Linked DNA regions of Homo sapiens: region 2 is linked to region 1. Evidence: fine-mapped expression QTL. A gene starts in region 1. The other region holds a variant in brackets. All regions are shown on one strand. Distances are between the middles of the regions.

Region 1 (5,472 bases):
TGTAAGATCAATGAATGTTTACTGATTGGACACTTCTGTTTCCCTTATCTGCAAATCCACTACTCCTACCACTACATCTACACAGAAATATTGTGGCTACTGATACACCACAGATCTGTCTTTAAATGTCAACAATCTAGTTTAAATTTTTTCATGTTCAGGTATGTGTCTCTAATATTAATTAGTACATAATATGAACTGACCCATATGGAAATAAAAAAACCAAAAGGTATAGTTATGGTTTTCATATAAACTTATAATCTTATGAATGCAAGAAAGAACGCATATAAATTACATATAAAAATAAGCATTTATAAAGGCACATCGCTGTATGTGAAAGCAAAGAAAATTTTCACTGTCCTTGAAAATAGTGGAATGAATACATGTTTGGAACTGTATAAAGACACTTTCTGAAGAAAATTAATTTTTAAACTTGGAAGAAAGATTTTGGAAGTAATGACACTGGAGGATTTTTTTAAAATTACACGTTCCCTTAGAATTGTGGCTGAATATAAGTTTCACATACATATGTTCAAAGAGTTGTGACAGTTCAAGAAGGAACTAACCTAATCTAAACCAGTTATTTCTAACCTACAGGCTAAGGAGTCAGTAGAAGAGTTGCCTGAATGCACATACTCCAAGCACTGTCTGTAGTCTAAAACATTTCTGCTCCATTTCTCAAATATAAATAGATACTGTAAAAATAAAATACAAAATCATTTAAAAGCATAGTAGTTTTCTGTCATTATACATAATTTCAACCAACAATTACTAAAAGTCCAATTGCATGTGTATTAGAAGTACAGGGTTTCTCATAATCAAAATAGGTCGGGACCTTTAAGCTAATGTACAGAGTTCCTTCTGGCCCAAAATTCTATGATTTTAAAGGATGAAGAACTCTTACGGTGAATTCCTTAGAACTATTCCATTTCAATAAACATACATATGTATATATAAATAATGCTTGCTATGTGCCAAGTACTGGACTTTTTCTCAGAGATGAGTAAGACATGATTCCAGACAGACCCAGGTTCAAATTGGCAGGAGAGACAGAAACAAATAATACAACCTAATAAATACTGCAGAAGAAAAGTTTCAAATGCGTTGGGAGCACAGCGGTATCAATGTCACCTGGGGGAGTCTGAGAAGACAATGATTTATGAATTGGGTTTTGACAGGTGGTAAAATAGAGGAACAGTAAACATCCTAGACATCCGCACGTACAAAAGTACAGAGCTGTCAAAGCGCATGGCATGTTTGGGGAAATAGCCAGTATAGTCTTGTATGGTAGGATATTAAAGCAGGACTAAAAGGTAAAATGGATTGGGGCAGACTGTAAAAGATCCTGAATGATGATGTGCTTAACAATTAGGATTTGATGCTGTCAGCAATACGGTTACTAAAAAGTTTAAGGAAAGGACAGAGATAAATATGTATTTCAGAATAACTCTATGGAAGGATTATAGTAGGGAAACCAGTGGAGGGCGGGGGGCAGAGGGGGCAACCGCACTAATTCTGGCGAAAAAAAAAATAATACAGTGCAGTGTTAAGTGGAAATGAAGAACCAATGATGATTCCTGGTTTTCTAGTTCGGATAGCAGGACAGATACTGGAACCATTATCAGAGATGGGATAGAGAAGAAAGGCAGGAAGAGAACCAGAAAAGAGTAATACCCCTTGGAGAGCAGTTTCAAGAAACAAGTTATCTTCATTAAACGCTGCAAACAGGTGACTGAAAGGGTCCCCCGTCCGGTGGTGAACTCGCAGGTGGGTAAGGCAGGATGAAAGCAGATACGGAAGGTGTGTCCACAGGGTTAGAGCCAAGGCTTTTCATTGAACTTTCCGCACCGCATCTCCATTAAGAGGAGCTCGGAGTCGGGGGGCGCGGAGAGGAAGTCCGGCTCCCAGGAGCAGGGAGCCCGCGGCGGGAAGCGGACAGGGCCGGGCGCCGGTGGTTCAAGAGGCGCAAGGCACCGGCCCCGGCGAAGGACTGCCCCGGCAAAGGACGCCTCCGACTCGCCCACCCCTGCTCCCGTCCCTGGATTTAGTCCACTTACTCTGCTCTTAGTCCCTCGCAGCCTTCAGCTGTGGCGATGCGGACTCAAACCCTCTACCAACCGGGACCTATGCACTCAAGGGAAGAGACTCCGCGCCCCCCTAATCCGCCTCCTCAGCAAGCAGACGCAGAATCGGACGGAGGCAGCGGACGGAAGGCCGGGAAGCCAGTGGCGTTCAACGCCATCACCGGCGGGGTAGACACCTCCGCCGACCGCCTCCGACCGGCGCTCCCGGAGAACTCCAGCCTCGCGAGATTTCTTTCCTCGCGTTACTGTGGGGCAGAACCGACCACTCTCCGCTTTGCCCCAGAAGGCAGGGCGGGGCCCTTCTATGTCCCTCCCTATTCCTCCCTTCCCAGGCTTTCGCTCGGCCTCTCGCAAAGTCTCGCGAGTTTTTCCAGGGGAAACCGGCCTGGGTGGAGAGACAGAGAAGGGGAGACCGGGTGGGTGGGTCGTACGCTTAGGGGGCCGTGGTTGGTACTTCGCTGTTGGGGAGGCTTTCAGGTCGCCCAGATCCTGCTTCCCAATGGGTGACTGGGAAAATTAGCGGGTGGAAAATCTCGAGGGGTGGAGGCTTTTTTTTTCCTCCTTGGCCCCGCCCTCTTCCTGTTCGGCGACTGGGACGCCTGGCCCTACGAGGGGGAAGGGAGGCTTGGCCGGGCTATCGGAGAGCGCTGTGCGCACGCGCGAGCCCGAGTGCGTGTGTGTGTGTGCACGCGCACGCGCGCTCCTGCTCTTAGGAAGCCTGGGAAGGACCGGTGTGCTAGGAGATGATCGGGGAAAGCATAGTCCCCTGTCTGTGGCACCAGACACTCCCGACTGTGCGCTGACTCTCCCCGCCCAGCCAGCAGCCTTTTCCAGAGAGGCTGTGGTCCATAGCCTCTGTTCGTTTTCACTGCAGGACCAGGCACGAAAGTAAGCGAACCTCGATCCTGAGGTCTTCCCTATCCACTCACCTTGTATTTTCCACCCCCCACCCTCCAGCAAAGTGGGTCTAGAAGGTTTCTCAAAGAGAGTTTTGCATGAAGGGGAGATGCGTCTTGAAAGCAAGAGGTGAAAATAGCTGGATCGTAAGAAATCAGTTCGTTTTGATTTAACACTTTGGCTTTGCTTGCCATGTGCTTTTCGAATGTGGATTGTCTATTCAGTATAAGATTTTGTTAGCGAAGCAGGGGAGTACCGTATGCTCTGTTTTAATAAGAAAAAGTTTTAAAAGTTTTAAATTTCCTTCTACACACCAGTGTGATGGTAACAACTAAGTTTTTCTGCTCTACCTGGTAAATTACTGTGATGTTTCAAAAGCTAAGGGGAGAGTGTGAAGTTGGGGTCCTTATCCTAAGGCGAAGACCTGATGTGCGGTTATCTTAGGAGATGTTTATCTTTGTTTTGGCCTTTTCTTTTGCTGTCACTCCTCTTTCCTGTTAATTCCGCACCCCTACCCGCCAGTCCCCCTTCAAACGTTTTTCTTGGAGGGAAGTGCAAAAATGCTGGCTTGGGGTTTATATGTGACTAATGTCAATTAGCAAGGATCATAAAGTTGTATTTCAAGAGTCTTTGTCACTTATGTTTCGTATATGTAAGGGAATCAAATACAATTAAATGTCAAAATGTTTCCCTCTGACAATTTTAAGTTCATTTTAAAAGCAAAACCAAAAATGCATGCACTGGTATTTTTGTCTGGGCCTGGTAGAGTGACAGCCTAATATGGTGTATTGATACCCTTGCTTTCTGGTCATGACCTCATTAAACTGTCCTTTGTCGGACAGATTTCTTTGAACATATTATTCATGTTCCCTACCAAGTCTTCTTGAGGGAAAGACAATCTTCTTGAGAAAATTAGAAAAAATGTAAGATGTTATGTACAAATATTTGGCTAATATGTTTTTCCCCTTACAGGTTAAAACAAAATGAAGATTTTTTCTGAATCTCATAAAACAGTGTTTGTTGTGGATCACTGCCCTTATATGGCAGAATCTTGCAGGCAGCATGTCGAGTTTGATATGCTGGTGAAGAATAGAACCCAAGGAATCATTCCTTTGGCCCCCATATCTAAATCATTGTGGACTTGCTCAGTAGAATCTTCCATGGAATATTGTAGAATAATGTATGATATATTTCCTTTCAAAAAGCTGGTGAGTGTGAAGTACAAACAAAATCATGATTTTGGGGATGTACTTAACTGCATAAATGAATTTTTATATGAATTTGCTATAGATAATGACTGTGTGTTTATTACTTAAAAATGTGGTACATAACGCTGCCCTTTGGGATTAATATATAATGGATATTTAATTGGGGCCAGTAATAATAACAGCTAACAATTATTGAGCACTTTACATGTGCCAGACATATTTCAAAGTGCTTCATATTTATTAATTTCCGTAATTCTCATAACAGTCATGTTAGGTAGGAACTGTAGTTATTGAAGCAATATTCAAAGTATGTAACAACCAGTATAGAACACAGACTGACCATTGAGAGCTGCTGTCAAACTGTGCTGGCATGTAGCAGCTGACTGTCAGTCTTGTTTGTTGCTTCCCTGTTGCAGATCCGGAAACTGAGGTAAAGAGAAGAAACTTGTCCTGAGTCACATAGTTACGTAGAGGCAGAGCCAGAATTTGAACCTAAGCTGGCTAGCTGCTTGCAATTTTAGCAAATATATACTAAACTGCTGTATTGTTTGGCCATATTAGAAAGAAATACTTTTAAGAATGCTAAGTGGATATGGTTTATCAGTAAGAAGAGAAATGGATGATTGACAGAAATTACAGGTATTAAAGTTTAATCTTAGATTTCAGTATCTTAAATGTCTTATTTTGGGAAAGTCATTTGTTTAGCCACAAGTGGAAGACTTGCTTTCTGTCTTACTCGAAGCGCTGGGACCTAGCCAATTCTTAGACTGAGGAAGGTAGGGCAGTAGAGTAAAGGTGAACATAGTCTGATATTATACATTCACATATATTCCAAATTAAAATATAAGCCCTTCTTAAAATTTGTGTGCATTCTGTGTGTGATAAAAATATATAATGAGAGGGAATGTAACTGATTTGGAGCGCAGGCTTCGGTTCAGACCTTGGCGTGGTTAACTACTAGCTGTGTGACTTTGATCATATTTCTTAATCTCTCCAAGCCTCAGTTTCCTCCCGTGTAAGTATAACACTTACTTCCTCGATGTAAGCTTTAAAAGAGATAAATCTACGTAAAGTGACTTGTAAAATATATCCCTGTCAGATAAGCCTTGGAAGAGAAGACCAATTATCAAACTTCTTGGGGGAGGAAGGAAAACTGGTATTTCATCGATATATAGGGAAAAAGATCATAGATTAGATCGTGTTGTCCAGAGTAAAGAAAGAAATCTAACCCTCTAGCCAAAAAGGAACATGGGTCAGAATCATCATTTGATAAGTTTTCCAAA
Region 2 (5,000 bases), 25 kb after region 1:
TTGACATGTTTATGTTATGTCAAGGTAGTTTTTTTGTTTGTTTGTTTGTTTTGAGACAGAGTTTCGCTCTTGTTGCCCAGGTTAGAGTGCAGTGGCGCAATCTTGGCTCACTGCAACCTCTGCCTCCTGGGTTTAGGCGATTCTCCTGCCTCAGCTTCCCGAGTAGCTAAGATTATAGGCGCCTGCCACCATGCCCAGCTAATTTTTGTATTTTAGTAAAGATGGGGTTTCACCATGTTGGCCAGGCTGGTCTCGAACTCCTGACCTCAGGTGATCCACCTGTCTTGGCCTCCTGAAGTGTTGGGATTACAGGTGTGAGCCACCGTGCCCAACCTCAAGGTAGTTTTTAAATAAGCAAATGGGTCTTCTAATGTGATTAACTGACTCTTTTATCTGTGTGTGATAGAAAAGTTAAATTACAGAAGGGGAAAAAAAGTGTTCCTTGGTTTTTACAAAAGGTGGGGAAAACATACCATGAATGCATTTATGTTTGAGGCTTTCTTCATTTTCATCATATAAAGGCTGATAGGTTTCAAGTTCAGAAAGGATAAAAAAGTAGTGGAGTTAAGGGATACTGTTAGAAAAAATGTTTTGTTGCACATCACAGGACAGAAGACATCAGGGAAACAGACTAGTACATGTAATCCATACTGAAACATTAGACATAGTTTCTAATTTTATCTTATTTGGTTATCATTAGGATTTTGGTGAATTTATGAGGGAAAACAGATTAACTCCTTTTCTAGACCCCAGATATAAAATCGATGGAAGTCTTGAGGTCCCTTTGGAACGAGCAAAAGATCAGTTAGAAAAACATACCCGTTACTGGCCTATGATCATTTCACAAACCACCATTTTTAACATGCAAGCGGTAAGTGTTAAGTAGCTTCAACTTTTCTTATAGATTAGTTATATATTCTTTATAGAAATCAATTAGACAATTTGTAATTTATACCATTTCTTAAGCAAAGAATGAAATATATGAGCTTGCTAAAGTTAAAGAATTAATAATTAAAAATTGAAGTGATAGTTATAGATTCCTTCACCATGATAATCTTTAAAATCCTTTCGAAAATCAAGTTCTGCCTAGATGTTTTGATATTTATTTTTCAAGACAGATTTTCTTTTTTCTTTAAAAAAAATCTAACAGGTAGTTCCATTAGCCAGTGTTATTGTGAAAGAATCTCTGACAGAAGAAGATGTGTTAAACTGTCAAAAAACAATATACAACTTAGTTGATATGGAAAGAAAAAATGATCCTCTACCTATTTCCACAGTTGGTACAAGAGGAAAGGGCCCTAAAAGGTACATTTTTTTTTCTTTCTTACTTTATAGATCACATTTACTTGATACATATTGTTTCTCAAGATAACTTATTCCATATGTAAATTCTATTTGAGGACATGTTTATATATATATTTGAGATGAAATAATACAAAATCATAGAAATGGATATATTGTAGCCTAGAATTTCACTATTAAGTACCAAGTAAGAGGAAGGAAGTCCACATTTCATTATTTGTTTTTACTTTACCACTAGAAAGTGACACTTCAATATTATTTAAAGAGTATTTCCAAATCTTTGCTGCAGAGATGAACAATACCGTATCATGTGGAATGAATTAGAAACCCTTGTCAGAGCCCATATCAACAACTCAGAGAAACATCAAAGAGTCTTGGAATGTCTGATGGCATGCAGGAGCAAACCCCCAGAAGAGGAAGAACGAAAGAAACGAGGAAGAAAGAGGGAAGACAAAGAGGACAAGTCAGAGAAAGCAGTGAAAGATTATGAACAGGAAAAGTCTTGGCAAGACTCAGAGAGGTGACTTCCTGGCATTGATATAGCACCATGGTGCCTTTTGTTATATCACATTCTGCATAGAACACTTTCATACATTCAAACCTGATTTAATAGTAGTTCATTTAATACATGTTTATTCATTTTCATTACTGTAATTTTATCATTCTTAAAATCTAGAGGATCTTTCTTGGGCACAAAAAAGTATGAATTTTTACTGTTGGGGCAAAGTTAGTGTTAGTTTTTCCTAATTAACTTCTGAAAATCATAATGCATGATGTTTGGTATCAGTATGTGCTTTATGTGTTGTGAACTTCACAGACATAATTTTATTCCTCTGTTCACTAAATATTTACTGAATGCTTATGATGTGCCAGGCATTTGGCACAAGATCCCTACCCTTGAAGAACATACAGTGTGATGCTAGAGACAGACAAATTAGTGATTGCAGGCTGGGTGCAGTGGTTCACACCTGTAATCCCAGCACTTTGGGAGGCCGAGGCGGGTGGATCACTTGAGGTCAGGAGTTTGAGACCAGCCTGGCCAACATGGCAAAATCCTGTCTCTACTTAAAAAAATACAAAAATCAGCTGGGTATGGGGGTGCATGCCTGTAATCTCAGCTACTCAAGGGGCTGAGGCACGAGAATCACGTGAACCTGGGAGGCAGAGGTTGCTGTGAGCCGAGATTCCTCCACTGCACTCCAGCCTGGGCAATAGAGTAAGACTTTGTCTCAAAAAAAAAAAAA[AG/G]TGATTGCAGCAAAGTGTGGAAGGTGCTATTATAAAAATAGGCATAGGATGTCCTTGGAAGCACAGAAGAAGGGCATACAGTCTATTCTGAAAATGTTTCTTAATAGTATACTCTTTTCCTTTAGTTTGTGATTTATATTATGATGTCAGCGTTAAATCTGAAAAACATAAAAGTAATAAAGGCTTATAAATAGAAATAGCGTATCCTCTGGCTATATCCTCTATCCACTTGCCAGAAATCAGACCAACACCAGGTCACTTTTTTTAAAATTAATTAATTTTTATTTATTTTTTTGAGACAGAGTCTCGCTCTATCACCCAGGCTGGAATGCAGTGGCATGATCTCGACTCACTGCAGCCTCTGCCTCCTGGGTTCAAGTGATTCTCATGCCTTAGCCTCTCAGGTAGCTGGGATTATAGGTATGTGCCACCATGCCTGGCCAATTTTTTGTATTTGTAGTAGAGATGGAGTTTCACCATGTTGCCCAGGCTGGTCTCGATCTCCTGACCTCAGGCGATCTGCCCATCTTGGTCTCCCAAAGTGCTTGGGATTACAGGCATGAGCCACTGCGACTGACGAAAAACACATCTTTTTATGATGGAAAATTTCAAACATATGTAGCAAAAGAACAGATAGTTACTCATCATCTACCTTCAATGATTAACAATTCATGGCAGATCTCATTTCATATATATCTTCATCCACTACCTTTACCACTACACCCATAGGAATATTTTGAAGCTAATTCTGGAAATCCTGTAATTGTATCCATTAATAATAGAATACTTTTATTCTCTTTGACTTTAGAAGCTCATGTTTTCCTTAGGGCTGCTGAGCTTCTGAAACACTACTGGCTCACTGTAAGAGGGAAAAAGTACTATCATTTAGGTCCCACTGAGCTTCAAGTACACTCTTGTATATTTTGCAAGTGTTTTTGTTCTCTGATGAAACTCTAAAAGTTTAGAGTTAAGTTTCTGATTTGCAGAACATAAATACATCTACACAATACATAGACTAGAGAATAAATGGGAATAAACTTATTAATCTTATTTGTAATTTGAAATTCAGTGTTATTTTGTTCCTATCTTTAAAAATCAGAATTGTGCAATTTCTTCTGAAGATCACATCATTTCCTACCTTTTAAATTTTAATTTAAGTATCTTCTTTTTTTTTATATTTTACAGCTAATTCCTGAATCATTGCATTATTATTATGAAGGAAAAGGGAAACTTGTATTTAATTCATTAATTTCTGTTACCTGGTTTTAGATTGAGATTTTTGATTAGTCCCTAGGTTTATTTTATGAGATTAGCCATCTTTTATAAAGGTTGATATGCAAAGTTAGTTTAATTATTAGACCATTAGACTTCTAAAAATTTGAACTTTACATTTCATTATTTGTCCCTCTAAAAGATTAAAAGGAATCTTAGAGCGTGGAAAAGAAGAATTGGCTGAAGCTGAGATTATAAAAGATTCGCCTGATTCCCCAGAACCTCCAAACAAAAAACCCCTTGTTGAAATGGATGAAACTCCACAAGTGGAAAAATCAAAAGGTAAGGTACAGCTGTGGTAACTAGGTTTATAAAAAGTTTTCCAGGCCGGGTGTGGTGGCTTACCCCTGTAATCCCAGCACTTTGGGAGGCTGAGGCAAGCAGATCACCTGAGGTCAGGAATTCAAGACCAGCCTGGCCAGCATGGTGAAACCCCACCTCTAATAAAAATACAAAATTAGGCGGGCATGGTGACACACACCTGTAATCCCAGCTACTTGGGAGGCTGAGGCTAGAGAGTCGCTTGCACCTGGGAGGCGGAGGTTGCAGTGAGCCAAGATCGCACCATTGCACTTCAGCCTGGGCGACAGAGCAAGACTCTGTTTCAGAAAAAAAAAAAATTTTCCAATGAAGCTCTGTTTTGTACAGTGTTATTTAATATTGTTGTGTATGTGAGGAAGAGTTCTTAAGTATTTGTGGGTGTTGTTTAGGACATTCTCTGTTTACAACCTGTATTAGTCCAGTCTTATGCTGCTAATAAAGATAAAAATACCCAAGACTGGGTAATTTTTAAAGGAAAGAGGTTTAATTGACTCACAGTTCCAGCATGGCTGGGAGGCCTCAGGAAACTTACAGGCATGGCAGAAGGAGAAGCAAACATGTCCTTCTTCACATGGCAGCAGCCAGGGGAAGGGCAGAGCAAAGGGAGAGGAAGCCCCTTATAAAACTATCAGATCTAGTGAGAACTCACTCACTATCACGAGAACAGCATGGAAATTTGGGTGGGGACACAGCCAAACCGTATCACAGCCTTAGAGAATACAGGCAGTAAATATATTTGTCAGTGTTAAAAACAAAAACAAGTAGTGTTATACTTTCATTAATGAAGCCTTTGGAAAATAAGCATATAAAGTTTGTGTTTTAAGAAATTTTAAATATGTAAACTTGAATCTGTTTATGTT

The links. PIP is the estimated chance that this variant, and not a neighbour inherited with it, causes the effect. A credible set is the group of variants that fine-mapping cannot tell apart.
Region 2: its variant is the best candidate, but not a certain one, in a credible set for the expression of INTS13 in whole blood (INTERVAL, PIP 0.86).

The regions. Positions count from the first base shown.
Region 1 is chr12:26,935,296-26,940,767 of GRCh38, reverse strand. It overlaps INTS13 (integrator complex subunit 13), which reads left to right and starts at 2,787. Exons shown (of 17, transcript NM_018164.3): 1 at 2,787-2,972; 2 at 3,954-4,189. The coding sequence starts at 3,965. FGFR1OP2 (FGFR1 oncogene partner 2) reads right to left here and starts at 2,298. Exons shown (of 7, transcript NM_015633.3): 1 at 2,058-2,298. RefSeq lists a silencer at 1,865-1,934 and enhancers at 1,464-1,972, 2,195-2,244, 1,973-2,482.
Region 2 is chr12:26,910,279-26,915,278 of GRCh38, reverse strand. It overlaps INTS13 (integrator complex subunit 13), which reads left to right. Exons shown (of 17, transcript NM_018164.3): 12 at 701-871; 13 at 1,151-1,305; 14 at 1,592-1,822; 15 at 3,962-4,101. Among named protein-coding and RNA genes, the nearest start is that of INTS13, 25 kb to the left of the region's middle. The variant AG/G (reference allele first, on the strand shown) is at 2,547.